Linked DNA regions of Homo sapiens: all the other regions are linked to region 1. The links come from fine-mapping of genetic effects on gene expression. A gene starts in region 1. Each other region holds a variant in brackets. All regions are shown on one strand. Distances are from middle to middle. Region 1 holds the start of FZD10-AS1 (FZD10 antisense RNA 1). Region 2 has its middle 49 kb from the start of FZD10. Region 3 holds the start of LINC02419 (long intergenic non-protein coding RNA 2419). Region 4 has its middle 12 kb from the start of LINC02418.

Region 1 (7,561 bases):
CACACATATATACACACATATATACACACATATATACACACACATATATATACACACACATATACACACACATACACACACATATATACACACACATATATACACACACATATATACACACACATATATATACACACACACACACATATATACACACACTATATATATATATATGATTGTGTTTGTTGTTGTTGCAGTTGCAGAGATGAAAAAGAAATCTGTGTCTTTAAATGAGGAGGGGCTGCGTAAGGAGGCTTGGGCAGCAAAAAGGCTAATACGCTGTGGAAGAGAAGGAGTTTAATCTAATTTAGTTGGAGGGTGTCTGTCTGCGGTGTTGTTTTTTGGAGTGTGGGAATAGAGGCGGGAAGCTGCCCCCTTGAATGGTCCCTCCTGAGCCAGGAGCAGTGGGGAGCCAGTCGACGCCAGCGATCCAAAGCCCGGCCTTGAAAGAGGATTAAATCAATGCTCTGATTTGCAATTCACACTAGTGCACCCCGTGGAACCTTTGGTAATATTTCAAACCACATTTCAAGGGAAGTGGCCTTAAAATAGCTGCCTAAATTGTGCTGGAGCCACACTGGACACCCCACTCATCCACTTTAGGATGGGGGTGCTTCGGGGTTCATTTCTCACCTTCCCCCAAACCTCCACATCTCACAGCCAGTGTTTTTAGGCAGAATTAAAACTTTTGCGCCTGTTGAATTCGCTGCGACTTGCATGGCCTTTCTGGTGGTACAAACTGTGTTTTCTTTGCTAAGTATCACTTCAGATCACTAAAGGTATTTTCCCTGGAGAAAAAGATGGGGGCACGCCACGGGGAGCATGCCTACTTGATCAGAAAACATAATTTTTTGTGCATGTTTTATATCTGATAAGTTTCTGCAGAAACTTGATACTAGATGAGGTCAGAGAAAACAAGGTCTATTCACATCAGACTTCCCTGCATGTGAAGCAATTATTGGTAAATAGATCAGTTTTCATTCTCATACTTGAAGGTAGAATTGGAAATGTCCCGGACTAAATACAAACATTGACGACACGAGAAGACAAGAGAAGAAACACAAGAATCACTTACGTGGATCCTCACACTTGAATGTACCAAGAGAGGTGATTCAAGCAGCAGCTACTGAAAGGCGTTGCGACAGCCTGAACCACTTTTTATCTCAACATTCACCAGCACGATTTTACTTCTGTTTATGAGCTTTCTTCCTATGCCACCAGTTTACTCTTGCAATTAGCTTGTAACATGCTAAGCTTATGGTTTAATTTCTTTCTGTTGCTGAAAGACTCAGTACTTTTTTATCTTAAAGAGATTATTTGGGTTTTCTCTAATCCCATTTCAGAAAACCTCGCACAGTGCTTATAATTTCCATTGACTATTACATAATAAGAAAAGATACAACTTTGATTTTTAGCAATATCCGTGTCAAAGTACTTTTATACTTTTGACTTTGTGAGTTTAAATGGAATGAAACTGGGCCTCTCTTTCAATTCCCCTCCACCTCCAAAAAATATTTAGTTCTTGTTCAAAACACTGCCTGACTCCTGAAATATTCTCTCTCAAAAACCTCATACTTTCCCTGGTGAACGTTTGCAAGAACCTGAAGGCGGATAATGTTTACTGATAGCTTTCCGATAGACAGACATTTTTAGGTGGTTGGGGGTAAAAACATATTCCTTGTCTCTGCACGTTATGTGAAATCATGTTTAATTATAAAGTTTCATTAAAAATCTTTGCTCAAAATTTTAGAAGCCTAATAAGATTTCCATTAATTTAAACATATCACTATTCCCACGACGGCTCCAAAGCTTTCTTTTCCGTCTTTCATCCATGGTTAAATATGTAAATAAAATGTCTAAAGTCATTCTTCAAAGAAGACAAAAGAAAAAAGAGCTGAGGGAAAGACAGCCATAAAATTCCTCCCAATTCTCCATAACATTTGCCAGAGGGGGGTCGGTTGCCAGCCAGGGCTGAGCAGCGGGGGACCCCGGCTGCTCCTTAGACTCACACATCTCAAATCCCACACACAGGAAAAAAAATAAAATAAAATATCTTTTCAGCTGGGGCCATCAAAAGAGCCTTTTCATTTATTAGTTACAGACTTATCTTCCAGTTGCTGATTTCTCAGAACCCTCATTTCTCTATAATAAAGTCTATTTGTTGGTTTCCATCTCAGCTGGACAGGGCGAAGCACTTCTGCAGACATTTTTATAAAAAACGAGAGAAAAAGGCAATCTGAAGTGGTTATAGCTAAAATAATGGGCCTGAACGTGGCTGAATTAAAACAGCACAGAAAAGATCAATTAGGAGGCACTTTCTCAAATAGCTCACACCCAGCTCCCGGCGTTTGGCTCTCACTCTTGCACTAAATATTTCTAATAGTTGCTGAGGGAGAGACACAAAAAGGAAAAGAAGGAAAATAGGGCCCAGGAAGGACCTTTGCCAGGAAAATTCTAGAAAAGCCAAGTGATTTCCGCTGAATTAATTTTAATTTAAAGGTCCTGAAAAATTACTCACTAGACAAAAAACAACAACAACAAAAAAAAAAACACTATAATAAAAATGGCAGTCTTTCAAAAATAAAATCATGCAACTTTTCACTTGGGAAATAACACAGTTGAAGGTGGTGTTCTAACTGCCCGGAGTTTCTACCTTCTTTTTCACTTTCTCCCTCACCCCGACTTCCTCCAGCACCTCCTAGTGAGACCCAGGACACCCAGGGACAGCGACCCAGGGGTGGGTGCCTGAACCTGCCTATTAATTCTGGGATTCTGGGCGCTCAAATGTCTGTTGAACGGATGAATGAATGAGTGGAAAGGTGAGATTTCCCCAAGTTTCTTACCGATGTAAAAATTGTAGGGCTTGTTTTAATTAAAAGCCAATACTCTCCGAGGAAGTGGCCCCCTCCTGCACGGCGTGCAGAAAGCTGGTCAGTGAGGGGGGTTCCTGGCGGGCCCCATCTCCTTCCCGGGCGCTTCCTAGGGAGACCTTGCCCCGTGCGCAGCGTCCCCACCGCGGGGGCCCGTGCAGCCGCCCCCCACGCCGGGTGGAGCGCCGCCAACGCGGGAAGCCCCAGCACTGCCTCCAAAGATGTCCGCACACTCCACCCTGCTCCCTGGAACTATCCTCAAACGGGCAGGGGGCAAGCGAGGCCGGTGGACGCGGGACTCGCTCCTCTGACCTCTCCCCGGCCCCCCGGGAGGTAGCGGGAGATTGCACACGCGATCCTGCGAGTTTCCGAACTTTGGAAGATCGTGACCCGGAGAGACCCTGGGAGGAGAGGGCCGGCCACCTCCTAGGGGTGCTGTTTTTTTAAGGGTCAACCCAGGACGCTACGGGAAGCACCTGGCGCATCCTTGGGAACAGTGGGGCTTGGCGGTGGGCGCCCACCGCGAACGCCCTGGGCGGGGGAAGGGAATGGCGGGGGGACGTCGTGTCCTAAGTGACCCCGTCACAGACCCGCCCCAATCCGAGGGGGGATGAGCTCAGAGGACCTGCCCAGGACGCTCCTTCTCCACTTTCCAGGAAAACCGAGCGGCGTGCGCGCCTCCGTGTCCTCGCGGGAGCTGGGGGTCCCCGGGCAGGCGCTGACGCGCTCCTCCCACGACCCACTCCATCCCACCCTACTCCGGGTCCTCCTGCGGGGCTGCAGCCAAGGAGGGCGCTGGCCGGGCACATCACTCGCCAAATCACATAAATACCCCACGAGCGAATGACTTCCTATAATAAATAAACTCAGCCGCCAAGAAGGCATCTCCAGCCCTGCTGGCGCGAGGCCCCGGCTCTGCGGCTTCGGAGGGGGCGGGGGTCACCGCGGTACAAACCAAGCCCGCACTTCCCGCGGGGTGGGAGGCGGTGTTCAAAGTCCCGGGACGCTTCCCGCCCCTCCCCCTTCCCGCCTTCTTAGAGGAGACCTCGGATGAGCGGCCCTAAAATCCGGATTCTCGAGCCCCTCCCCCTCCCCTTAGCTCGTCTCTTTGAAATTTCAAAGAAAATCCCTCCTCGGAGCCCGGAGCCCGGGGCTGGTAGCACCTCCCCAGCCTCAGGAAGATGCGGGCAGGTTTACAAGCAAGGGCCTACTTTATGGCCCAGGCTATAAAACGCAAATCCCACCTCCCTTTGAAAGCGCCCTCCGCCCGGGACTCACCATAAAAGGAAGAGAAGATGCACCCCGCGCCCCTCGCCGCGGACCACCCCCAAACCCCTTCTCCCGCCAGTCCCCGAACTTCCCGTAACCTCGGCGTCCTCGGGGTGCCGGGGACCATCCCGGGGACCGCCGGGAAAGGGGGCGCCGGCGGAGAGGATAGCGAGAGGCAAAGTTGGAGGCCAGGCAGAGAGAGGGCGAGGAGAGGCGGGCGGGACTGCCGGGGAGGGTCGCAGCGCGCAGAGCCCCGCGCGCCAGGCGGGCTGTCCCGGGGCTGGCGGGCGACGCGGGCGGGACTAGGCGCTGCGCCCCCCGCAGGCTGGGCTGCAGGCCGGGGGGGATCGGCCCCCGCGGGGCCCGGGAGCCCGCGGCGGGGCGGCGGGGAGGAGGCTGCCCCGGGCCGCTGCGCTTTCTCATGCAAAGCAGCGGCGGGGCGGGGCGCGCGGCCCGGGGGCGGGGCCTGTCAGCGCTCGGCTTTTCTGCCCCCCTTTGCCTTTTTGCGAGTCTTCTCATCCCGGGACGCAAACCTCGAAACAGCTGCCGGCTGGTCCCGGCCGAGGCCGGCGCAGGGAGGGAGGAGCCGCCCGGGCTGTGGGGGCGCCGCGAGCTGGGCCGGCCTCGGTGTGCCCGCGCCGCCAGCCCGCTCCAGACGCGCCACCTGGGCGCTCCAAGAAGAGGCCGAAGTTTGCCGCGGCCGTGAGTTGGAGCTCGCGCCGGGCCGCTGCGCCGGGAGCTCCGGGGGCTTCCCTCGCTTCCCGGTATTGTTTGCAAACTTTGCTGCTCTCCGCCGCGGCCCCCAACTCGGCGGACGCCGGGCGCGGAGAGCCGAGCCGGGGGCGCTGTGCGCAGCGCTCGGGCCAGGCCGGGCGGGCATGGGCGGGGGCCCGAGCAGGGGTGGAGAGCCGGGGCCAGCAGCAGCCCGTGCCCGGGAGCGGCGGCGCTGAGGGGCGCGGAGCTCCCCGCGAGGACACGTCCAACGCCAGCATGCAGCGCCCGGGCCCCCGCCTGTGGCTGGTCCTGCAGGTGATGGGCTCGTGCGCCGCCATCAGCTCCATGGACATGGAGCGCCCGGGCGACGGCAAATGCCAGCCCATCGAGATCCCGATGTGCAAGGACATCGGCTACAACATGACTCGTATGCCCAACCTGATGGGCCACGAGAACCAGCGCGAGGCAGCCATCCAGTTGCACGAGTTCGCGCCGCTGGTGGAGTACGGCTGCCACGGCCACCTCCGCTTCTTCCTGTGCTCGCTGTACGCGCCGATGTGCACCGAGCAGGTCTCTACCCCCATCCCCGCCTGCCGGGTCATGTGCGAGCAGGCCCGGCTCAAGTGCTCCCCGATTATGGAGCAGTTCAACTTCAAGTGGCCCGACTCCCTGGACTGCCGGAAACTCCCCAACAAGAACGACCCCAACTACCTGTGCATGGAGGCGCCCAACAACGGCTCGGACGAGCCCACCCGGGGCTCGGGCCTGTTCCCGCCGCTGTTCCGGCCGCAGCGGCCCCACAGCGCGCAGGAGCACCCGCTGAAGGACGGGGGCCCCGGGCGCGGCGGCTGCGACAACCCGGGCAAGTTCCACCACGTGGAGAAGAGCGCGTCGTGCGCGCCGCTCTGCACGCCCGGCGTGGACGTGTACTGGAGCCGCGAGGACAAGCGCTTCGCAGTGGTCTGGCTGGCCATCTGGGCGGTGCTGTGCTTCTTCTCCAGCGCCTTCACCGTGCTCACCTTCCTCATCGACCCGGCCCGCTTCCGCTACCCCGAGCGCCCCATCATCTTCCTCTCCATGTGCTACTGCGTCTACTCCGTGGGCTACCTCATCCGCCTCTTCGCCGGCGCCGAGAGCATCGCCTGCGACCGGGACAGCGGCCAGCTCTATGTCATCCAGGAGGGACTGGAGAGCACCGGCTGCACGCTGGTCTTCCTGGTCCTCTACTACTTCGGCATGGCCAGCTCGCTGTGGTGGGTGGTCCTCACGCTCACCTGGTTCCTGGCCGCCGGCAAGAAGTGGGGCCACGAGGCCATCGAAGCCAACAGCAGCTACTTCCACCTGGCAGCCTGGGCCATCCCGGCGGTGAAGACCATCCTGATCCTGGTCATGCGCAGGGTGGCGGGGGACGAGCTCACCGGGGTCTGCTACGTGGGCAGCATGGACGTCAACGCGCTCACCGGCTTCGTGCTCATTCCCCTGGCCTGCTACCTGGTCATCGGCACGTCCTTCATCCTCTCGGGCTTCGTGGCCCTGTTCCACATCCGGAGGGTGATGAAGACGGGCGGCGAGAACACGGACAAGCTGGAGAAGCTCATGGTGCGTATCGGGCTCTTCTCTGTGCTGTACACCGTGCCGGCCACCTGTGTGATCGCCTGCTACTTTTACGAACGCCTCAACATGGATTACTGGAAGATCCTGGCGGCGCAGCACAAGTGCAAAATGAACAACCAGACTAAAACGCTGGACTGCCTGATGGCCGCCTCCATCCCCGCCGTGGAGATCTTCATGGTGAAGATCTTTATGCTGCTGGTGGTGGGGATCACCAGCGGGATGTGGATTTGGACCTCCAAGACTCTGCAGTCCTGGCAGCAGGTGTGCAGCCGTAGGTTAAAGAAGAAGAGCCGGAGAAAACCGGCCAGCGTGATCACCAGCGGTGGGATTTACAAAAAAGCCCAGCATCCCCAGAAAACTCACCACGGGAAATATGAGATCCCTGCCCAGTCGCCCACCTGCGTGTGAACAGGGCTGGAGGGAAGGGCACAGGGGCGCCCGGAGCTAAGATGTGGTGCTTTTCTTGGTTGTGTTTTTCTTTCTTCTTCTTCTTTTTTTTTTTTTATAAAAGCAAAAGAGAAATACATAAAAAAGTGTTTACCCTGAAATTCAGGATGCTGTGATACACTGAAAGGAAAAATGTACTTAAAGGGTTTTGTTTTGTTTTGGTTTTCCAGCGAAGGGAAGCTCCTCCAGTGAAGTAGCCTCTTGTGTAACTAATTTGTGGTAAAGTAGTTGATTCAGCCCTCAGAAGAAAACTTTTGTTTAGAGCCCTCCCTAAATATACATCTGTGTATTTGAGTTGGCTTTGCTACCCATTTACAAATAAGAGGACAGATAACTGCTTTGCAAATTCAAGAGCCTCCCCTGGGTTAACAAATGAGCCATCCCCAGGGCCCACCCCCAGGAAGGCCACAGTGCTGGGCGGCATCCCTGCAGAGGAAAGACAGGACCCGGGGCCCGCCTCACACCCCAGTGGATTTGGAGTTGCTTAAAATAGACTCCGGCCTTCACCAATAGTCTCTCTGCAAGACAGAAACCTCCATCAAACCTCACATTTGTGAACTCAAACGATGTGCAATACATTTTTTTCTCTTTCCTTGAAAATAAAAAGAGAAACAAGTATTTTGCTATATATAAAGACAACAAAAGAA
Region 2 (7,561 bases), 50 kb after region 1:
AACAATTTTCAGAGTTCAGAGAAATAAAACAAGGTTTACACATTTTTGGACAAATTTATATGGGGTAGAAAGTGAAAGATTTCTTCCCACACTAACACATTTCTTTATATCCCTGCAGAATTTTTCCTTTGTTTATTTAAATAAAAGTCAACATAATATGCATATTTTTCTGCAACTTGCTTTAAAAGTTAACAATATACTGTGACTGTTTTTCCAGGGCAGAATATGCCAAATCAACTACATTCTTTTTAATAGATCCATGTTTCAATTTCATTCAGTGAACACCAAGGTTGTTTTGATTTTTGTTATTACAAACTACTCTGCCCATACATCCTTAGGCATAGAAAGCTGTAAATCTGGGGTTAGGTACAGAATCACTTCCAAAAGTAAGAGGTCTAGACAGAAGTTTATTGTCCTGATTGCAGACTCTCTCTTGTGCTGTTGAGTGACCTGTGTGGGCATCTCTCAATATATTTATTGTTTGGGTGTTTTTGATATCTGCTAAAATATGTCTTCCTCATAATACTTCCTATTTGAACATATTTTTAGCTATTCTCTTGCATTTTTCTCTTCAAGTAACCTTTAATAAATATGACATGTTAATAAATGCTTCATTAAAATATTGATTGGATATACCCTAAATTTATTAATTTACGACTTCACGCTATTGAGTTTTCTTTTATCCTTTTCAGTATAGTCTTATAATTTCATTCAGAGAGAGATCAAATACATGGGTAAGAATTTTATTTCTTCTTTTCACTGTTTTTAACTATTACTTTCTTCCTTACCTCATTGAATTAACTAGCAAGCCCAGAACAATGTTGAAAAACCCTGGTACCAGCAGATAGCACTGCCTTTCATGTTTCACCAATTTATCTAATGTTTACTAGTTATTGTTATATATCTTTTACCGTTAGAACTTCCTTCTGTCAATAGCCAAGGGAAAGCAGTAATAATTATCAAGTTTCCTCAGAATTTTTCCCATTTAATGATTGAATCATAATTTTTATCCTTCAACCTATTGTAGTAGTTAGCCTTCAATAAAATGCCCAATAATTCTCAAATCCTGGCATTCACACACCATGAAGTCCCCTCCCTCATCGTATAGGGCTGACCTGTGTAATCAATAGACGATGTGGAATAACAGAGTGTGAATTCCAGAGCTAGGCCATAAAATATCTCGAATTACTTGCTATGGGAGAATCAGCTGCCATGTTGTGAGGATGCTCAAAGAGTCCTAAAAGGTCCACATGGCCAGGAACTGAGGCCTCCAGCCAACAGCCATGGGTGCCTTCCAAGGCTGCCATCTTGGAAGCCAGTCTTCTGCCCCATTTAAGCCTTCAGATGACTGCAGCCCCATCAACTTCTTGACTGCAACTTCTTGAAAGGCACTCTAAGCTACAGCCACCTAAGTTGCTCTGGGTACATAACGGAAACTGTGATTAAATACATATCTATTGTGTTAAGCTGCTAAGGTTTGAGGTGATTTGTTATGCAATGGTAGATAACTAATGCACATACTAATTGATTTTTAAAAGTTTTCCGATGTTATTTCATCCTTTTATTATTGGAAGAAAAATAGTTTAGTCATGGTATATTATTCTTTAATACACCGATGGATTCAATTTGTTGATAGTAAATTTTGAGTTTTATTATTCTTATTTGCAAAAGTGATTAAACTCAATCTGTATTTCTTAACCTGTTTGTCAAGAACCGTAATTCTGGAAGTTTAATTGGAGCTCTGACAAAGGCAATTCTATTAAACCACTCTGGGAAGCATCTGTGTAATGAATGCCCCTCTTGGAGATTTACAATGCTCGTTAGTGCAGTGTTTTTACCACCTGAATCCAAATTACCTAGGTATCTGTTAAATTCAGATATTCAGGCTTTATTCAATAAAAATCTGTGATTTGGGTTTGGAAACCTGCATTTTAACAAGCTTTACCAGGGATTCTTACGCACACAAAAATTTTAAAGCTGTATCTTAATATATTAAAGGTTCTGGGAAGTTCAACAGTTGAAAAAACAAACCCTTAATGGTAAACAAGTTCATTTATGAGGGAAGGGTTTTTTCTCCATTTGTTAGATACATTTCTAAAAATATTAGTTTGGGTTTATAGTTGTATGTTTTAAATATACATATAATACTGTTAATTAGATTTTGGTGTCAGAATTTTATCAGTCTTGTAGAATATACTAGAAAATTTTCTGTGTTTTTTTCTAGGCTTCAGGATAGTTTAAATCATAGACGATTTATCTGTTCCTAGAGGGTCGGATGGTAAATTTTTGACATCCTTCTCATTTTTAAATAATTATTATCCAGATTTTCTACTTCTTTATTTAACTCTGGTAATTATTCCTTTCATCCAGATAAGGATTCATTCATACCTTCATACCTCTTGGTATGAGGGTATACATGGCATTCTCTAAGTTTTATAAATCTCTGCCATATCACTAAGTATTTTGTCTTATTTCTATCATGAACAATTTAGTTTTTCTCTCTCTCTTGTTCTCACTCTTGCTCTCGCTCAAGTTTGCCAAGAGATTTATCTATCTTAATCTATTCAAAGCTATGGTTCTTTACTTTATCAATTCTGTTTTTTATTCCTTAATTTTTTTCTATACAACTAATTTGTTTTCCATTTCACCTATTTTATTCATTAATTTCTTATTTTTTCTTAGCTTCTTCAGTTAAATATTTAATTCATTTGTTTTTAGCCACTTTATTAATAATAAGAGGATGTTCAGTCCAGGAATTTTCCCCTGATTACAGGTTGGGCCACATTCTGGTTTTTGTTGTTATTGCTATTGCTTGTTTTTTTTTTTTTTAACCTTCATCTTAAAGTTTAAATATGTGTGAAATACACACATAATTAAGAGTATCCAGTGCTTATAATTTAAGAAGCATCCCTTTTCCTCTCTCATACGGCCCCACGACTCCATGTTTGCTTTCCCAGGAGAAAGCATGCTGGATTGTTGCAGCTCTCTCTGGTCCATTTCCATTTTAAAAAGGTGTTTTCAGCATTACATCATGATATAGTATTAGTTTTAGACATTATCTGTTGACTGCCTGTTAGAAGAAACTATAGTCTCTTTTGTATGTGGCCCCTGCCTCCTTCCCTGCCACTCTCCCAGTATGAGTGAGATCATTTTTCTGAGATTATTTCTATAGCTCGATCACTTCTCAGGGCTTGTATTTGGAACATCTTATCTTGCCCAGTTTTTCCTGTGAATGTGGAAGAAACACTTGCCAATGAACCTGGCTGGACCCAGGCTCTTCTCTCCTTGAATAGCGGCAATAACCACAAGTCTTCAGCTTGACCTCTCAAGTCCACAGCGGCGGCCCGGGGTAGTCCATCAGGGGCTACCTAGGGTGGCTACAGATTTGGCTAGAGCCTTACCTAATACCTGAGAAAGTTGGCTTAGAGCTTCTCGTTTGGAAGAACTCATAGTTTTTGTCTCGCACTTTGTTTTTTTTTTTTTTTTTTAATTCTTGAGTTTATTTTTTCATTTTACTTTAAGTTCTGGGATACATGTGCAGAATGCGCATGTTTGTTACATAGGTATACATGTGCCATGATGATTTGCTGCACCCATCAACCTGTCATCTAGGTTTCAAGCCCTGCCTGTATTTAGTATTTGTCCTAATGCTCTCCCTCCCCTTGCCCCCCACCCGCCGACAGGCCCCAGTGTGTGACGTTCCCTCTCTGTGTCCATGTGTTCTCATTGTTCAACTCTTACTTATGAGTGAGAACATGCGGTGTTTGGTTTTCTGTCCTTGTGATAGTTTGCTGAGAATGATGGCTTCCAGCTTCATCCATATCCCTGCAAAGGACATTAACTCATTCTTTTTTACGGCTGCATAGTATTCCATGGTGTATATGTACCATATTTTCTTTCTCCAGTCTATCATTGATGGGCATTTGGGTTGGTTCCAAGTCTTTGCTATTGTAAATAGTGCTCCAATAAACAT[A/G]CGTGTGCATACCACAATGAGATACCATCTCGTGCTGGTTAGAATGGAGATTATTAAAAAGTCAGGAAACAACAGATGCTGGTGAGGCTGTGGAGAAATAGGAACACTTTTACACTACTGGTGGGAGTGTAAATTAGTTCAACCATTGTGGAAGACAGTTTGGCGATTCCTCAAGGATCTAGAACCAGAAATACCATTTTACCTAGCAATCCCATTACTGGGTATATGCCCAAAGGATTATAAATCATTCTACTTTGTTATATTTTTATTTATTGTGGAATATTTTATTTTATTTATTTTATTTTATTTGAGATAGGGCCTTGCTCAGTCACCCTGACTAGAATGCAGTGGCACAATTAAGACTCACTGTAGCCTCCACCACCAAGGATCAGGTGATCCTCCCACCTCACCCTCCAGAGTAGGTGGGACTACAGGTGCACTACCAGGCCCAGCTAATTTTTAAATTTTTTGTAGAGACAAGGCCTCATTGTGTTGCCCAGACTGGTCTCAAACCCCTGACCTCAAGCAATCCTTCCATGTTGGCTTCCCAAAGTGCTGAGATTACAGACGTGAGCCGCTGCACCCAGCCTATTATGGAATATTTTAACTTACACAAGTGAATATAGTAGTATAATGAACTCCCAGCTTCAGAGAGAGCGAGAGAGAATAGTGAGTCACTTAGCTTTAAGACTGTCAGTTCACAGCCAATCTGACTTCATCTATACCTCTATCCACTTTCCCACTCCTCTATTATCTTGAAGCAAATCCTAGAAATCATATTTTATTCATAAATATTTCAGTATGTTTCTCTAACAGATAAGGACACTTTCTTTAATATAACCATGATGCCATTATCCTAAAATAGTAATTCCTTAATATCAACAAAAATCCACTCAGTATTCAAATTTCCGGTTGTCTTCTAAAAGTCATATGGGGTCAAACCAAGTCTCTTTGATTTTAGGTTCTACTTGTCGGTTTGAACCAGGCGCTGAACAGCTCCACACCTGCTGACTGGCTGTACTATCTTTTGTTTTCATCTCTGGAGTTCCCAGCCATTTTTTTTTTTCAACATTTGTGGAAGAAACCAGTTTCTTTTGTCCTGTTTCCTAGTTTCGATTTTGCTAATCATGTCCTTGTGGGGCGTTGTGTAATATTTTTCTCTGTCTTCTGTGTTTTTTTGTGGATTGGAAGCTGGAGCAGTGGGGTTCATGAAACTCGATTTTTTTAAACAGGAAATCTATCTACGTGAGGTGTTGTCTTACAAGGAGGCATACGATGCTTGATTGTCTTTCATTTTGTTATGTTAACAGACCTGTGTTCAATGCCTGGATCCATTATTTTAAGAAGGCTTGCCAAATGTTAATGCTCCGTTCTCTTGTTTCCTCATCCATTCAGTGGAATAACTCCACAAAGAGAAGCTTCCTCCCAAATACTATTTAGTAATTGTGTGGCAATATTTTAAGTCTTTTTCTTTCATTAACATACATCAACAACAAATATAAGATTTGCTATGTATAACTCCATGTGTGTATATGGAAACTGAGGACTCTGAGTTGTCAAAGACTCCTAGAGCTGCCTAAGGAGTTTCATCAATAGATCTCTCACTGTTGTTGGTCAGCAGCTTGGAGACAGTTCCTTGACAGTGCCTGGCTGTCTAGAAGAGAACAGTCCACTCCCCATTCTCACTGGAGCTTGGTGTATCTGTGTGACTATGTTCCGGTCATTGAGATAAAAGTGGAAAACATGAGGCTGCTTTCATGAAGCTGTCTTAGAAGGCAGCTTTGCTGGCTCCTGACCTCCTCTTCCTTGCCTCTTCCTCGTGCTTGGAATACATGGAATGCAGAAGAGAGGGCTGGAGGTCCTGCAGCCTTCTTGGACTAGGAAGTCAAGCTCCACACCCTAGAAATAGCAAACATGAAAGCCACAAAGTCCACGGATCCCTGAAACTCTCCACATGCCATATTAACCTGAGCTGCCCACCTGCAGGTTGCTTTCACGTGAGAGGGAAATAGATTGCTATCTTCTGTAAGATACTGTATTGGGGATAAGGAGGTTCTATTAATCTTGATGAGTGGAGTTGTCCAGCTCCCACATCCTCCCAGGTGAAGCAGCTCTTCTCTTCACTCTGCAAACCTTGAAGACCTGCTTGGAGAAGGGCTGGGGGGAGCATGGGTCATATTCTCCTTTGGCACTCCCTCCACTGGCTCCAGCTCAATAACCTTTAATTCGGATGACACATGACCCCACTCAGCTACTCCAGTCCTGAAGTAGAGTTAAATGGGAAGTTATGTGCTCCAGATACAACTCTGGTCTTATCTCCTACCTCTTTAAAGCATCTGTGGAGGCACAGACGCCAGCAGCAATGGCCTCCCTCCCGCAGGATTCTGTCATCTCCTGTTTCCAGGCACCTGGAATCTTATGGGGCTTTTTAACTTCCAATCATAAAACAGCTTTCTCTGTCATCCAAGGCATGCATGGGCCATCTCAGCCCTTTGATCCCCTCTCTCCCTAACAATGCTCACCCCCTTGGACTGTGTTTCTCCAACATGTCTGGTTCTGCCAGCACACATGCTAAAAAAGGACAAATGTGGTTTCTTCTCTGTTATGATCATCTTGTCTGGAGAATTTGCCAGAATTCATGGAGTTGCATAAAGGTGCTAAGTGGAAAAATGGACTGTATTTAAGCTCAATTGTTTTGAGCTATGAAAATGCAAAGATGTGCCTCCACCTTGCTTCTTGCAGATTTTATCTAAGGGTCTAGAAATCTACAATAAGACATAAATGCCATCTACCCTCTCTGAGACTTTTGAGTCCATAAAGCAAATCATCACCCTCTAATTAAGACCTGCTTGTGTTTTCTGATTAACAGTTAAGGGGGTTATTTTTGATATTTCATGTGGGAGCTTCACATGTGTGTGTCGACCAATATCTCAGATCAATGTGTGCGTTCACAGAGCTTTGTGTAGTGCTGTGCATCGTGCTCCTAATCCCACTTTTAGTAAATAAAAAAGAAGTGAGGTGGTAGAGATAGCAAGTGCACACATAGGGGCAGAAGGAATTGGTGTGAGACTAAGCATGATCTAATCTAATCAGAGACTCAAATTTATGAGACTCATTACGAGACTATGACACACATGTGCTTATTTCCACTTTACAAATGCGGAAACTGAGCTAGCGAGTGATGCAAACAAAATTCTAATTCCAGCCTTGTCTACTTCCAAAACCCGTGTTCTTCCCCTGCACTGCTCCCCTGCTGTTGATTTGAGCCTGGTGGTGAACCTCGGCTGCTACCAAATTTATCAGTGGGAGGTCCTTGTAGGAGAGCATCTGGAAGGAAGAGGGCGTAGGAGACCTATCTTGAGGTTGTGTTTGCACGGGAAGAAAGCTCATTGCTCTCGTGGAGTGGGGAGGCTGGAGATAATAAGGGGGCTAAATAAAGCTCCTTAATGTAGGACTCCAATCCCAGCAAAGGAATATGACAGAACCAAAAAGCAAAACCAGGCAACTCATGTAGGAAGGTGGTCCCCGCTGGCTCCCCTTCCAATTTCAGGAGCACTGTAGAGGCTACGGGGTTGCATTTCGTATTCT
Region 3 (7,561 bases), 87 kb before region 1:
GATTGCCATGGTCAGGAAGGCAGGAAGCAAAAAATGCAGCTCACCATCCAGACGCCCTGCCTCGTGCTCCCGCGGACTGGCTGCGCCCCAGACTCGGGTTTCAGTAGAATCAGGATGAGCCTGCTGGGCAGCCGGGTCACAGGCCCCTAACTCACCTGCAGACCCACGCAGATCAGTCTTCGCAGTGAGCTCAGGGCAGACCTCAGCTTTGCTCAAGCCCGGCCCTGCCACAAACATGCCTCACCTCCTGCCACCTACCCTGGCCGTTCCTCCAGCCAACTGGGCATGAGAATGAAAACTCCCACAAGTTCCATGGGAATGCATATTTGATGAACTGGAAAAATATCAGGCTAACTAAATAAAAGTTGGATTTCCCTGAGCCTCACTTGCTGGTCACTGCCCTGTCACTTCTGAAAGTCATGTGGACTCCATTATTTGTTTATTTTTTTGAGACGGAGGCTCGCTCTGTCGCCCAGGCTGGAGTGCAGTGGCGTAATCTCGGTTCCCTGCAACCTCTGCCTCCCGTGTTCAAGCGATTCTCCTGCCTCAGCCTCCCGAGTAGCTGGGATTACAGGCGCCATGTTAACCAGGATGGTCTCGATCTCCTGACCTCATGATCTGCCTGCCTCGGCCTCCCAAAGTGCTGGGATTACAGGTGTGAGACACCACACCTGGTTAATTTTTGTATTTTTTAATAGCGATGGGGTTTCACCATGTTGGCCAGGCTGGTCTTGAACTCCTGATCTCAAATAATCCACCCACCTTGGCATCCCAAAGTGCTGGGATTACAGGCATGAGCCACCACACCTGGCAGGGCCCCATTATTACATCACACACAGAGAGGGTTCTGAAAGGCAGCAGGGGCTGTTGAGGGTGAAAGTCAGTTGTCTTCTGGGTGCAGCTACAGCTATTCCACCTGTCATGCAGGTAGCCATCCACAGTAAACCGTCAGCTTTTCTCCCTTACATTTTTCTCTTTATACTTGAGAATTATGTTTTCACTTGGGCCATAAAGACATTTGGGCTAAGTCACAGGAAATAGGACGCTGATAAATGAGGACTGCAGTTTCTTCTCTTGAACCATTGAATACCCCCCGCAGGAAGTACACGGGAGAAAATAGGAGGGAGATTGTTTGCGGAGGGCTGCAGCTGAGCAGTAAGTCCACTTAGTAGCTTCTCCCTTATTCCTGCCCTGCAGGCAGATAAGCCCAACAAGTGAAATGAACCCCAGTTCCCAATCACAAGATTATGTTCTGGGACCACTAAACTGCAGTTGTGGAAAATGGGCCTTACAAATACAAGTTGTATTAATCTGTTTTCATGCTGCCTGGAAAGACATACCCGAGACTGGGTAATTTATAAAGAAAAAGGTTTAATCAACTCACAGTTCCATGTGGCTGGGGAGGCCTCACAATCATGGCGGAAGGCGAAAGCCATGTCTTACATGGTGGCAGCAAGAGAGAGAATGAGAATCAAGCAAAAGGGGCTTTCCCTTATGAAACCATCAGATCTCATGAGATTTATCCACTACCTCGAGAATAGTTTGGGGGAGACCACCCCCATTATCCAATTATCTCCCACCAGGTCCCTCCCACAACACATGGGAATAATGAGAGCTAAAATTCAAGATGAGATTTGGGTGGGGACACAGCCAAACCGTAGCAACATAAAACAAGCATGGGAGAAAAGATGTTTCCAAAGGATCGTCCATATTTAGTTAGCCAAGACTATAACCACAGCTGAAATCTAAGGTTTCTGATGGAGAAGAAGACCTTAGTAATTTGGTTTTTGTTTTGTTTCATAGAAAGAACACTGACCATAAGATCTGCCCTCTTAACACATTTTTAAGAGCGTGATACAGGATTGTTAACAATAAGGAACATGGTTGTTTGTTTTTCTCTTAATTGCTTTTTTATTACGAAGCTAAATGATTTTTAAGAGCGAAATTTGAATATAAAGAAAATAATAGGGCTTTTGACTTTTCTACTACAAGAAGGTGGCTTCCTCAAGGCATATGATTGCAATCCAAGCGATGCTATTTCCAGATGGTAAACAACCCTCTTTTTTACAATCATGTTGCCTACAAGTCTAGGCAGACAACCCTTGGTACTTACATACACCAGGTACTAGAGAAAAGCTGGAAAATGCAGCCAGTGGTCTCAAGGCTTTCAAAAATGAGACCTTAATAAAGAGTTAATATGAACTGAGTGTTTATCCTTGAGCAGGTACTGTATACACGGCACGTGGGTGAGCTCACTGACTCCACACAACAACCCTGTGAGGCAGATGCTATCAGCTCCTGCATTTCACAGATGTGGAAACCGAGGCAAAGTGAGTGCAGCACCTTGCTCAGGTGGTCCTGCTGGTCCACGACAGAGCCGGGTTTTGAAGCCGAGGGGCTTGGCTCCAGGGCCCAGCTGTCTACACTGTGCCCCAGTGCCTCGTGTTAGCATATTCAGTGTTATTTTAAGCGGTTCCACTCTCAATCAGAATGACAGCATCACAGAGCAAACATCACGTAGGCATTGGTCTAAACCCAGTTGGCACAAAAGGCCCCAAATTGAAGTCAGAAACTGAGTTCAAACCCAGATTTGCAACCACTGGCTTGGTGACTGTAGAAAGCCACTTAAGCCCTCTGTATCTGTATTTTTCTTATCTCTAAAAAGAGTGTAAACCTGACACGTGGCCCAGTGATCTCAGAGTGTAGCCCTGAGGATCAAATGTGGTCACGCGCGTGCACGCACTGTGAAGATGGGGCCAGCTTTCCCGGGGAGAGGCATGACAGTGGCAAACACTGTCCTACTTTTAACAGACACCGTCCTACTTTTAAC[A/G]GACACCACACATCGGCTCTGTCCCAGGTACATGCTCGTGAATGAGCCGAAAGTACAGAAACTTCCAAATGATAGAACCTCAGCTTAGTGTTGGGAAATGAGTGAAAACCAAACACCCTCGACACACACCCTTAAAGAAGACAGTCTTAATCTGTTAAGCGTTGCAGTCCCAAGTGAGAGCAAATGTTGCAGGCAAGGGAAAGGGATAACTTGGATTTTCGGGTGGATCACCTGAGGTCAGGAGTTCAAGACCAGCCTGGCCAACATGGGAAACCTCATCTCTACTAAAAATGCAAAAATTAGCTAGGTATGGTGGCAGGTGCCTGTAATCCCAGCTACTCAGGAGGCCCAGGCAGGGGAATTGCTTGAACCTGGGAGGCGGGGGTTGCAGTGAGCCTAGATCATGCCACTGCACTCCAGCCTGGGTGACAGAGTAGGGTCTTTCTCAAAAAAAAAAAAAAGTAACTGAAAGAAAGTACCAAATCAATATTTTACTCAATGATTTATGTTCCTGTAAGAGCTCTGGCCATCTTGCCAGTACACATTGGCACGGGTGTGCACACTTGTCATCAACGCATGCATCATCAGCTGTAAGCAAGAGCCTGCATTTGAATGTAGGTGTGTCCTGGCAGGCCTGAGAAAGCATCAGAGCCCAGAATGAATTCATTTCCTTAAGGAGTTTTAGGAGAAACTTAAGCAATGAAGATGAGAGTTTTGCATTGGTGCCCAGAAGGTTTGGCGAAAGCAACAGGATGCCCTTCCCAGAGGTGGCTGTAGGGGCCTGTGTCTGGGCACTAGAGGATGGAGGCAGTGTGAGAGCCCTATGGGCACTGCTGAGGGGTGCAAAGTGGCTCTCCTTTTGCCAGTTAAGAAGGCGGCTGTGGGGTGCATGCCCGTCAGGCCTGTCATAACCGGCACGAATGATGTTGTCCGACAGGCATGGGGATCTACACAGGAATGAAAACAACTCCAATTTCGGCTACTTTCTATGTGCTGACCGTTGCACTGATGGCTTTAAATATTTTATTCTAAAGCTGTTTCTCACCACGACCCTATAGATGTTATTGTCTCCATTTTATGGCAACGGAATCCCAAAAGGGCAGAGAGGTGGTGAGTGCAGCAAAGGAAACTGTCAAGCAGTCATGAACACGGGGGTCCCAGGAAGCAGAGATCTGGTACGGGTTGTCTACTGCTGGGTCACAAATTACCTCCCAAACTGAGCATCTTAAACAACAAACATTCACTGCTTATTTCTGTGGGTCAGGAGTTTGGGAGCAGCGTAGCTCAGGGGTTCTGGTTTAGGGTCTCTCTGAGGTTGGCCAAGGATGGGCTACCGCCACTGAAGGAGGAGAAGGGGGATCTGCTTCCAAGATGGTGTGCTCACTGGGCTCTGAACGCTTGCATGTCCTCGTGACATGGCCCCTGACTTCTCCCAGAGGGAGTGATCCCCAGAGAGAGCAAGAAGGAGACTACCCTGACTTCCATGACCTAGTCACAGAAGTCACACACCATTGCTTCTGCCATGCTTTATTTCTTAGGAGTGAGTCACTGAGTCTGGCCCACACTCAAGGGGGAGGAATTAGTTTTCACCTCTTGAAGGGTGGAACATCAAATAATGCATTATATTTTAAAGCCACCAGAGATCTCTTTAGAAAATGGGGCTCCACATTGGCCTGTGGGGCTAGTGAGCTGGTGAAGGGCTCCCCCTCCACCCCCGAGGCGGGAGGCACCTGCGGAAACTCAGCGAGGTCACACGATGTGCACATCTCCACTTGACATGAGACACCATGGAGATCAGGGGCCATAGTGTTTTCCCTCCTCCCTGTGCTTTTAGCAGTTTCTAGTCATTTCCTTGTCATCCTCACATTGCTATGAACACTTAGTAATGTGAACACAAACCTCCCAGTGGACTCACATGCTCAGAGGGCACTCAAGACTGGGGGAAGCAATGCAATCACAGCAGCATAAATATTCCTGAAGTCTGGGAGCCTCAAGACAGAAACTAGGTCACCAGGGCCTGCTAGTCTGGAGGAGCTGGTGTGCTCCCTTTAGTGTGCATGTGAATGAAGACACCGTCAGAGATATTCCTAGGGGCCACAAATTCTCCTGCATCCTTGCTTGCTCCTCCGAAGGGAGGGTCAGATGACGTGTGCAGCCTGGCCTCAGAAAGCTTGTGGGCCAAGTCGAATAGTTGCAGATGGGCTGGGACGTCCAGAGTCTGTTGCTCTGGAACAGTTGCTTACAAGTCAATGTATGTCTTTCATTCACCCACAAAACCGCACCATGCAACTCCTATGAGCAATGAAATAAGAACAAGTAATAAGAGACAGTAACCAGGAGATCTGGGACAGAAACACCCACGTGGAGCTATAGTCGCAGTGGATCCTGTGAAGGAAGGGCGTTGAGTAAAGGGACAGAAAGTGACAGAATGTGTTTCAGGTGGGATGGCCAGGGAAAGCCTTGCCACAGAGGAGGCCTACAAGCAAAAGCCTGGTGGGTGGGGGGTTAGGGCTGGAGCAGCTAGGTGCCTCCCAGGGGCAGATGAGGACCTCACAGGCCCCCGCTGGGACTTCAATTGTGTTGTAAACGTGGTTGGGAATGGTGGAGGAGCAGAGGGAGCAGGACCTGTTCTAAGTTTTAGAGGAATTGCTCCCAGCAGAGAACTGGCTTTCAGGGCAAGAATGAGAGCAGGGAGACCAGCAAGGGGGTATGGTCTAGAGAGGAGGATGAGTCTGAGGTGGGGAGACAGAGGTGGAGGGAGACTTCGGTTCAACGGGGATCTGTTTACAGGAAAAGATGACAGGAGTTCCTGATCGATCCAAAAGACAAAAGACAGGGGGTGCAGACTCTGCTGGGATCATCCAGGGCCACAGGGTAGTAGGAGCAACTTCTGGAAGACAGAACTGAGACGGTTTAAGGGATGTCACAGGAAAGAAGAGTTATAGTGTGCAGTAGCTCATCCATTCCTCCCCATGATCCTATGAGCTCGGCCCTGCCATTGCACCCATTTCCCAGATGAGGACACTGAGTCCTAGAGAGGTTAAGTGACTTGCTCATGGTCACAGAGCAGGAGGTGGCAGAGCCAGGGCTCACATGCAGGTATCTCAGGGAAGGACACCCAAGCTTTAAAAAAAAATTTAAAGGATACACTGTCATCCTATTTACTAACAAAATTTAACAAAATGAGACTACAATATTCCTTCTCCAGATGCTGTGGAGTAAATGCAGGATGAAGTCACATTTTCATAATTTTAAAACAGTTCCTAAGATCATCAGTCAGCAAAGTGAAGAACGAGAACCTATTGGAAGGTTCCCTAGGACCTTTCTGTGAATGTCCTGCATTTTCTTTTGTAATACTTTCCATCTCTGGTAAAGTAGATCTGCTTTAAAAGTACTTTATTGTGTTTTGTTCCCGATTATAAAAGTAATATGTATTCATCCTAGAAATAATCACCACTCACAGTTTGGTGTATTTCCTTCTAGTCTTTTTTCCCCTAAAGCATGCATAAGTGCTTGTTTTTGCACGTGTAACTTAATACACATTATAGTGTGTGTCCCATGAAAAGCACGTCTCAAGGAAGTGAGAAGTTGTCTTTGCAAACCCTGATGAGGTGTGAGAGCCCTGGCCAGTGCCAGACAAAGGCAGTCCCAGGAGCCCTCTAAGAATGGAAATCCTGCCCTAGTGGCCCCACGGCTCTACACGCAGACAATATCCGTTTGCTTTTCCTCTTTTACCAGAGAGATTACATCACCATCTACACATTTTTTTTTTTTGGTTGCTGTTATAGACTGTTTTTGAAACAGTTTCCAGACTTCCTGTAGGCTGTTTGTTTTGTAAACGCTTATCCATCTGTCCTTCTCCTTGAGTAAATGGGTCCAGGAAACACCCACTCTTTAGGAACACTCCCCCGTCCACCATTGGGCTTTATTTAATGTGGAGCTAGATCTATATAAAGCAAAATAAAAATACACAAAATGAAAGTGATAGTGATAAGGATGGTGGTGGTCATGGTAGATGCCAGTTTCAAACACAAGTCTATGCCAGGTGCAATGCACTAGTCCATTCTCACGCTGCTATGAAGAAATATCCAAGACTGGATAATTTATAAAGAAAAGTGGTTTAATTGACTCACAGTTCTGTATGGCTGGAAAGACCTCAGGAAACTTACAATCACGGCAAAAGAGGAAGCAAACATGTCCTTCTTTACAAGGCGGCAGGAGAGAGAAGTGCTGAGCAAAGGGGGGAAAAGCTCCTTATAAAACCATCAACTCTCTTAAGAACTCACTCACTATCATGAGAACAGCATGAGGGCAACTGCCCCCATGATTCAATTACCTCCCACCAGATCCTCCCATGACATGTGGGGATTGTGGGAGCTACAACTCAAGATGAAATTTGGATGGGGACACAGCCAAAACATCATGCAGTGTTCAGAGTTTGGCATGCATTTGGTTATTTAAGAGTCATCACGATTTCCTTTTTCTCAAATGAGGAAACTGAGACATGAGCCCTTTGCCTAAGGCCACATAGTTGGGAAGAGCCATAAATCCAGTAACTAGTCTCTGCAATTCTCAAACCCAAGCTCCTAATCACTTATATAAATATTGCCTCCAATGAGATAAAGAGAAAAAGAGACAAATAGAGAAAAACGACAGAGATCGATTCAAAAAGAGAGAGAGATGGCAACACAGACACAGGCATAGGATGCCTCTTGGGTTAGATGACCATAG
Region 4 (7,561 bases), 110 kb before region 1:
TCTGTCCCTGCCAAGACAAATTTGTAACTCCCTGCTTCTCAAAAAATAAAGATCAGTCTCCATACTTCGATGTTGAGGATCTTCCGTGGCTCAGCCGCAACCTGCCCTCCTGGCCCAAGGGCTGCTGTGCCCTGCCCACCTCTCCTCTCTGTCCCCTGAGCACGTTGTTCCCTCGGTGGACTCTGGGTAGCCTTCCTCCTACAGCCCTGGCCGCCCCTCCCCTCCACAGCCCCTTCACACTCAGGTCACTCCCTAGAGGAGGGGACAACTGCCCCTCTGTCCTTCCAAAGCCATTGATGCAATGATCCCACGGCCATGTGTGTGCAGAGACTGTGCTGGGCAGTGGGAGATGCAGTGATGAGAAGGCGAGACCAGATCCTGTCCTCAGGGAGCTCAGAGTCTCATTACGGAATAATCATGGTAGATAGCATCTTTATATGCTACTGATTATGCTTCAGATACTGTTCAAAGCACTTTACACAGATGTGCTTACTAAATCGTGGAAGCAAGCCCATCAGGCAGTACCATTATTCTTCCCAGTTTGCAGATGAAGACAGAGGCACAGAGAGGGTGAGCCACTTGCTCAAAGCCACACCGCTTTTCAGTCATCAAGCTGAGATTTGAATCCAGGCAGTCAAGCTACAGAACCCATGGTCTGAAACAATTAAAAACCAGAGTCTGTTCATCAGAGAAGCATAGCGAACATCTGTTATCTTCCAGGGGAACGTGACTTAGGCTTGAGGTCAGGAAAGGATTTTCTCTCTTTAGACTCATGCCCCGGGTCAAGACCATCTATAAACTGATGACTCTAAAGTTATTTCTTCAGATGCACCTGCACACCTGCCCCATCAGTATCGCCATGGGCATGCCCGAGAGGCCTCTCAAAATCTTCAAGTCCCCAAACAAACTCTTAGTCTTCCTCCACACACCATCTCCTTCCACACTTGTCCCCACCAGAACAGTTAACACCCATCCTCCTGATAGCACAGCCCCAAGCTTCTGAATCATCTGACTCGCGCCTCTCTCTCTCTCTCTCTCTGTTTCTCTCTCGCACACACCCCTGTCTCTTTTCCCACCCAAATATTGCTTCTCTGAGACCAAAGAGTTTTGTGTGGGTTTTGGGGTTGCTTTTCTCTGTTTGCTTTAATCACCCTATGCCCGGCGTCTAGATCAGGGTCGGCATATGCATTCTCTGCATTCTCTGTCCCTGGTTAGGTAACAGATACTTCAACCTTTGCAGACCCTGCGGTCTCTGTGGCAAGCATTCCACCCTGCCGCCAGGGCACACAGCAGCCACAGATGATATCTCGGTGAGGGAGCGCAGCCGTGTTCCCATAAAGCCTTATTTGTAGACACTGAAAGTTGACTTTCCTCTGAGTTTCATGTGTCACGAAGTAGTCTTCTTTTGATTTTTTCTAATTATTTGAAAATGTAAAAATAGTTATTCGCAGGCAGACTAGATCTGGGTTCAGTCCCAGAGCCGTCGTTGGCTGCCCCCTAGCCTGCCTGTAATAGGTGCTCAATGAATATTTGCTGACTGAGTGGGGAACATGACCTTGGATCTTAAATGTGAGATAAGAGAGAATTGATCAGATGACGGAGAGAAATAACCATCCAGACAGAGGGGGCGGCATGGGACAGGTACAGGTGCGGAGGGGAAGGTGGCCCTTTCTGGTGCTTGAAGGAAGCTCAGGGCAGCTGGAGTGGAGAAAGCCAAGTGCTGAGGTTGAGGACTAGCATTAGCAGGGTCGCGAGGACCCTCTGTGCGTGGACATTGTTGAACAACACTGGGTAATAACGACCAAGGCTGAGCCAGGGCTGGTCCGTGTGGGGACTTTCCCACGCGCCACCACAGTCACTGCTCCCTGTCAACACTCCTGTTAGGTGGGCACCACTATTATCTCAATAGACAGATGTAGAAATTGGGTCACAGAGAGGTTGAGTAACTTGCCCAGGGTCACACAGCCTGTCGGTGGCCAAGCTGGGATTCAAACCCAGGCAATGGGCTCCAACACCCTTCCCCCATTCATGGGACAAGGCGGGCTTGCCATAGCAAATAAAAATTCAGGGCCGGGCATGGTGGCTCATGCCTGTAATCCCAGCACTTTGGGAGGCAGAGGTGGGTGGATCACCTGGGATCAGGAGTTCGAAACCAGCCTGGCCAACGTGGTGAAACCCCATCTCTACTAAAAATACAAAAATTAGACGAGCGTGGTGGTGGGTGCCTGTAATCCCAGCTACTCAGGAGGCTGAGGTGGGAGAATCTCTTGGACCTGGGAGGTGGAGGTTGCAGTGAGCCAAGATCACACCATTGCACTCCAGCCTGGGGGATAGAGTGAGACTCTGTCTCAAAATAATAATAATAATAATAATAATAATAATAATAATAATTCAGGACTTCATGTTAATATGAATTTCAGATAAGCAATAAATGATATTTTAGTATAAGTATGTCCTATAAAATATTTGAGGCATACTTATACTAAAAATTGTTTCATTGTTTATCTGGATTTCAAATTTAACTGTATTTTTATATTTTCTCTGGCAATCCTGTGGCTAGGGCGAGCCCTGGGCACAGGAGGGATCCCTGTAGATGCTTAAAGACATGAGGATAGGAAAATGTTCTTATCTGCACCCCAAGAATGCCAGCGGTGGCAGGAGACAGGCAGCCCACGTGTGGACTGCAGGATCCTGTTTCACAAACTGAGATGCTCAGAGAAGGGCAAGCTTGAGGCAGGAGCGTGTGCACGCGGCAGGCTCCCGGGGCTGCACCTGCTGAGGATCTAGCGCCCCACTTTCCTCTGCATTTCTCCATTTATCAGCCACCTGCCACAGTCTGTCATTCCCCAGGCTCAGGAGGAGAGTTGGAGGTGGCTTTGTGAGCCACACAGAACAGGGAGGAAGCACAGCCGCCTGGCCTCCTGCTGTCGAAAGGGCGTGGCAGCCTCTAATTCAAACACAGGCAGGCTGGTCCTGGCCCCTGGGTGAAAGACAGCCGGCCCAGGGTTTTCATTAAGGAGGTAGAGAAGAATGCTTTCTTGGCCTGCTGCCCTTTCTCCTGCCACAGAAGAGGGGTCGGGAGCTGTGAGTGGGCTACAACTGCACCCCAGAGCTCCGGCAGGG[A/G]GCCCAGTCCCCGGCTTCCGGGCTGACAGTCCCCGAGACAGAGGCGGCCTTCATCCCTGGCCATCACACTGGTGCTTCAAGGCAGACAGCTGCCTCTTGCCGGAGCAAAGCGTTTACTAACTAATTTGTCAATGGCCAGCCTGGAATTCACCCTCTTCAGCTTGATCATAAGAAAAATTTAGCTCAAATTTAGAACTGCTGAACAGTTCAGAGGCCACGGTGTCAAGTGCTACCTGGAGAGGTGGGGAGCTACCCACTCCAGTGCTGTTTTCCACTTCATGAGGACCCTGGTGGTACCTGCTCAGCACTGGGCATTGTGAGGATTCCTGGGAACCCACATTCACGTAGTGCAAAGTGGCCCAAACCTTGAAAAGGCTGGAAACCAGTATGCGTGTCAGCTGGGTTGAAACAGGTACATGATTCAGTGAGACCAGGTGTGTACAATAGGGAGTAGTGGAGACTGGGGCAAATTGGGACTGCAGGCCTCATCTGAAAAGGGGAAGCCGCTGCTCCGTTCCGCTGAATGTCGCCATTTGGTGAACGTATGCTGGGACATATGACTTTTCATTGGTGTTGGAAATCTAGATTTAAAAAAAAATGTAAAGACTCAAATTCTGGGGAAACAGAAAACATCTATGGACCAGGTTTGGCCTAAGAACTGCTAATTTACAACTTCTGCATAAATCACACTGCAGTCTGTGTGTGGACTCCGTACAGGCATACACACGTGTGGACACCCAGGACTCCAACTCGTGAGGCCTGTGGGGAAATGTCACATGCAGGAGACACACACACACCCACACCACCACCACCACCACACACACACCACACATACACCACCGCAACCACAAACACACACAACCACACGCACAACCACACGCATACACAAATGACCACACACACAACCGCACACATATAAACACACCACACACAAAACCACAACCACACACACAACCACAACCACACACAACCACATACACATACAACCACACACAAGAACATACACAACCACACACAACCACAAACACAACTACACACACAACCACACACCACCATACCACAACCACACACACAAACCCCACAAAGCCGCACACCACACACCACCACAAACACACACCACCACAAACACACACAAACACACACACCCAACCACAACCACACACACACACCACAACCAAACAAAACACTGCACACACACCACCACAACCACACACACAACCAAAACACACACCACACACACCACCACAATCACAAAAAAACACAGATACAACCACACACATCCACACACACAACCAAACATACACACCACCACATCCACACACACAACCACACACACACCACCACAACCAAAAAAAACCACACACAAACTGCCACAGCCACACACCCAACCACACACACAACAAAACACAACACACCACCAGAACCACACACACAACCATACACACAGTCACACACACAACAGCCACAAACACACACAACCACACACATGCAGACAACCACAACCACACACAGCCACATACACATCACCACAACCACACACAACCCCACACACACCACCACCACCCACAACCACACACAGCCACATACACATCACCACAACCACACACAACCCCACACACACCACCACCACCCACAACCACAACCACACACACAACCACACACAGACAACCAACCACTCACTTCAGAGCAGATCCTGAGCTGGGAAAGCAAAGGTAGCCGATCCTGAGCGCCCCTACCTGCCAGGACGTACCCATGGGAGTCTCCATGCATCGGCCCCTCTCATTCTCTCACCAGTCCCAGCAGTGAGCACCATTATGATCAGCCTCCTTTTGCAGATGGGGAAACTGAGGCACTGAGTGGTCAAGTCACTTCCTAAGGTCTGAGAGCTGCTCAAGGGTAGCCAGGCTGTGGAGCCGGCTGGACTGGCTCAGTAGCCCTGCCACCTGCCCAGCTGCTCAGGGGCTGCTTGAGTCCTCGACAGTGCAGGGGGACTGGAATCTGTTCACTGTTCCCGGCATGGAGGGTGCAGCAGTGAGAGCAGTGAGGGTGGGTAAGGAGGCGCAGACTCAAGAGGTTGTGGGACCCGCCAGAAAAGAAGGGGCCAAATGCTCCCCTACAGTCCTGCAAGGCATACTTTTTTTTTTTTTTTTTTTTTTTTTGAGACAGAGTCTCACTCTGTTGCCCAGGCTGGAGTGCAGTGGCACGATCTCGGCTCACTGCAACCTCTGCCTCCCAAGTTCAAGCAATTCTCCTGCCTCAGCCTCCCGAGTAGCTGGGACTACAGGCGCCTGCTACCACGCCCGGCTAATTTTTTGTATTTTTAGTAGAGACAGGATTTCACCATGTTAGCCAGGATGGTCTCAATCTCCTGACCTCAGGTGATCCCTCCCGGCTAGGCCTCCCAAAGTGCTGGGATTACAGGTGTGAGCCACCGCATCTGGCATACAATTTAAAGGTTACAAAGGAAAAGGAGAAAGAGAAGAAAAGAGCACTGTCATCCTCAGACATATAACTAAGAAGCCTGGAGAAGATCCCAGGCTCTGACAAGGACACTTGTCTTTCTGACCATAAAACCACTTCTGTTTCTTGAGCACTTACTAGGGGCCAGGCACTGGGCTAAGGAAGCCCTAGGGGGCATCCACACTGCCAGGCAGGTTGTATTATCCTCCCATTTTATGGACAGTTCAACTGAGGTTTAGAAGGATTAAGTAAGTTGCTGGAGGTCACGCAGCCAGAAAATAGCAGATCCAAGACTCCTGCATGGCAGTAAGATGCCTGGGCCCTCGGGGGAGCTTGTCAGGCTGGTCCAAAGCCATCCAGCCCACTGTTCTGTGATTCCCCATCAAAGGTGAGTGATGTGGTTTGGGTCTGTGTCCTCACCCAAATCTCATGTTGATTGATAATCCCCAGTGTTGGGGAGGGACCTGGTAGGAGATAATTGGATCATGGGGGGCGGATTTTCCCCTTGGTGTTCACATGATGGTGAGTACCAGTTGTTTAAAAGTGCATAGCACCTCCCCTTTGAGCGCTCTCTCTCGCTCTGTCTCTCTCCTGCCATCATGTCAGATGTGCCTGCCTCCCCTTCGCCTTCTGCCATGATTGTAAGTTTCCTGAGGCCTCCCCAGCCGTGCTTCCTGTACAGCCTGCAGAACGGTGAGTCCAGTAAACCTTTTTCCTTTATAAGTTACTCAGTCTCCGATAATTCTTTATAGCAATGCGAGAATAAATGAATACAGTGAGGCTTGGCTTAAAGGCAACAAAGTCCATATTAAGGACCTTCTTCAAGGGAACTTTTTCAAGGAAGGCATCTCCAGCAGCCCAGATGACTACCACGGGATGCTATTTACACACGATTCCTCGTGATGCGTGTTATTCACCGTCGCGCCGGGCTTGTCCACTGGTCTGTTGACTTCATGAGGACCAAGACCTCGTCTGTTTCACTCATGATGATATCCCTAGCACCTGGCCAAATGCCTCGCAGCTGCTGAGACAGGAGACACGGCACATTGGGAGGGGTGGAGGAGTGTCTCCCAAAAAGATATGTCCAAGGAAGCGACCTTATTTAGAAATAGGTCTTTGCAGGTGTAATCCAATTATAGATTTGGAAATAGGATTATCTTGAATTGAGGATGGGCCCTAAATCCAGTGATTGGTGTCTTTATAAAAGAAAAGGAAGGAGGACGTGAGACCCAGGGGTGCAATGGGGAGGCACTGTGAAGACAGAGCCGAGGCGGGAGGGATGCTTGCCTCGGCCCAAGAATGCCAAGCACTGTCCGCAGACACCAGAAGCCGGGGAGAGGTGAATGCTTTTCCAGAGGGAACCAGGGCTGCCAACACCTCCATGTCTAACTTCGGGCCTCTTGAACTGTGCAAAAATAAATTTTAGCTGTTTTCACCCATCCAGTTTGTGAACAGTTGTTGCAGCAGGCCTGGGAAACTGATACATGTATTTTCTGAATGAAGAAACATCTAAAAAGAACTTCTGCTGGCAGAAAGCCTGTAGCCCAGGAAGTAGATCTTTGAAGAGCACCTATTCTGCATTCAGGAACCACCTGGTGAAGTTCTTTCTGAGGAATTTAGATTTTGTGTAGCCAGGCGTCTTCCAGAAGTGTGGTGAGGGAGTCATTGCTGAGAGACTTGTGCAGTGAATATTCCAACTCCCGGGTTTGATGGCATTCCTGGTTGGGGGTGGTGGCTGGCACCTGTAATCCCAGCTCTTTGGGAGGCCAAGGCAGGAGGATGGCTTGAGCACAGGAGCTCGAGACCAGCCTGGGCAACATAGTGAGACCTTGTCTCTACAAAAATGTTTAAAAATTAGCCTGGTGTGGTGATGCATGCCTGTAGTCCCAGCTACTTGGGAGGCTGAAGTGGGAGGATCCCTAGAGCTTAGAAGTTCAAGGCTACAGTAAGCCAGGATCATGCCGCTGCACTCCAGCCT

Evidence for each region. PIP is the estimated chance that this variant, and not a neighbour inherited with it, causes the effect.
Region 2: its variant is the best candidate, but not a certain one, in a credible set for the expression of FZD10-AS1 in minor salivary gland (GTEx, PIP 0.82).
Region 3: its variant is the best candidate, but not a certain one, in a credible set for the expression of FZD10-AS1 in putamen (GTEx, PIP 0.79).
Region 4: its variant is the best candidate, but not a certain one, in a credible set for the expression of FZD10-AS1 in anterior cingulate cortex (GTEx, PIP 0.59).

The regions. Positions count from the first base shown.
Region 1 is chr12:130,157,814-130,165,374 of GRCh38, forward strand. FZD10-AS1 (FZD10 antisense RNA 1) reads right to left here and starts at 3,865. Exons shown (of 4, transcript NR_033834.1): 1 at 2,844-3,865. FZD10 (frizzled class receptor 10) reads left to right here and starts at 4,651. Exons shown (of 1, transcript NM_007197.4): 1 at 4,651-7,561. The coding sequence starts at 5,130. The coding sequence ends at 6,875. RefSeq lists enhancers at 3,131-3,697, 3,698-4,264, 5,851-6,846, 6,932-7,477.
Region 2 is chr12:130,207,604-130,215,164 of GRCh38, forward strand. No RefSeq gene overlaps it. Among named protein-coding and RNA genes, the nearest start is that of FZD10, 49 kb to the left of the region's middle. The variant A/G (reference allele first, on the strand shown) is at 3,974.
Region 3 is chr12:130,070,484-130,078,044 of GRCh38, forward strand. It overlaps LINC02419 (long intergenic non-protein coding RNA 2419), which reads left to right and starts at 852. Exons shown (of 2, transcript NR_146538.1): 1 at 852-1,155; 2 at 1,804-2,202. It overlaps LOC105370077 (a long non-coding RNA gene), which reads right to left and starts at 798. Exons shown (of 4, transcript XR_945550.1): 1 at 763-798. RefSeq lists an enhancer at 5,115-5,642. The variant A/G (reference allele first, on the strand shown) is at 2,831.
Region 4 is chr12:130,050,858-130,058,418 of GRCh38, forward strand. No RefSeq gene overlaps it. Among named protein-coding and RNA genes, the nearest start is that of LINC02418, 12 kb to the left of the region's middle. The variant A/G (reference allele first, on the strand shown) is at 3,124.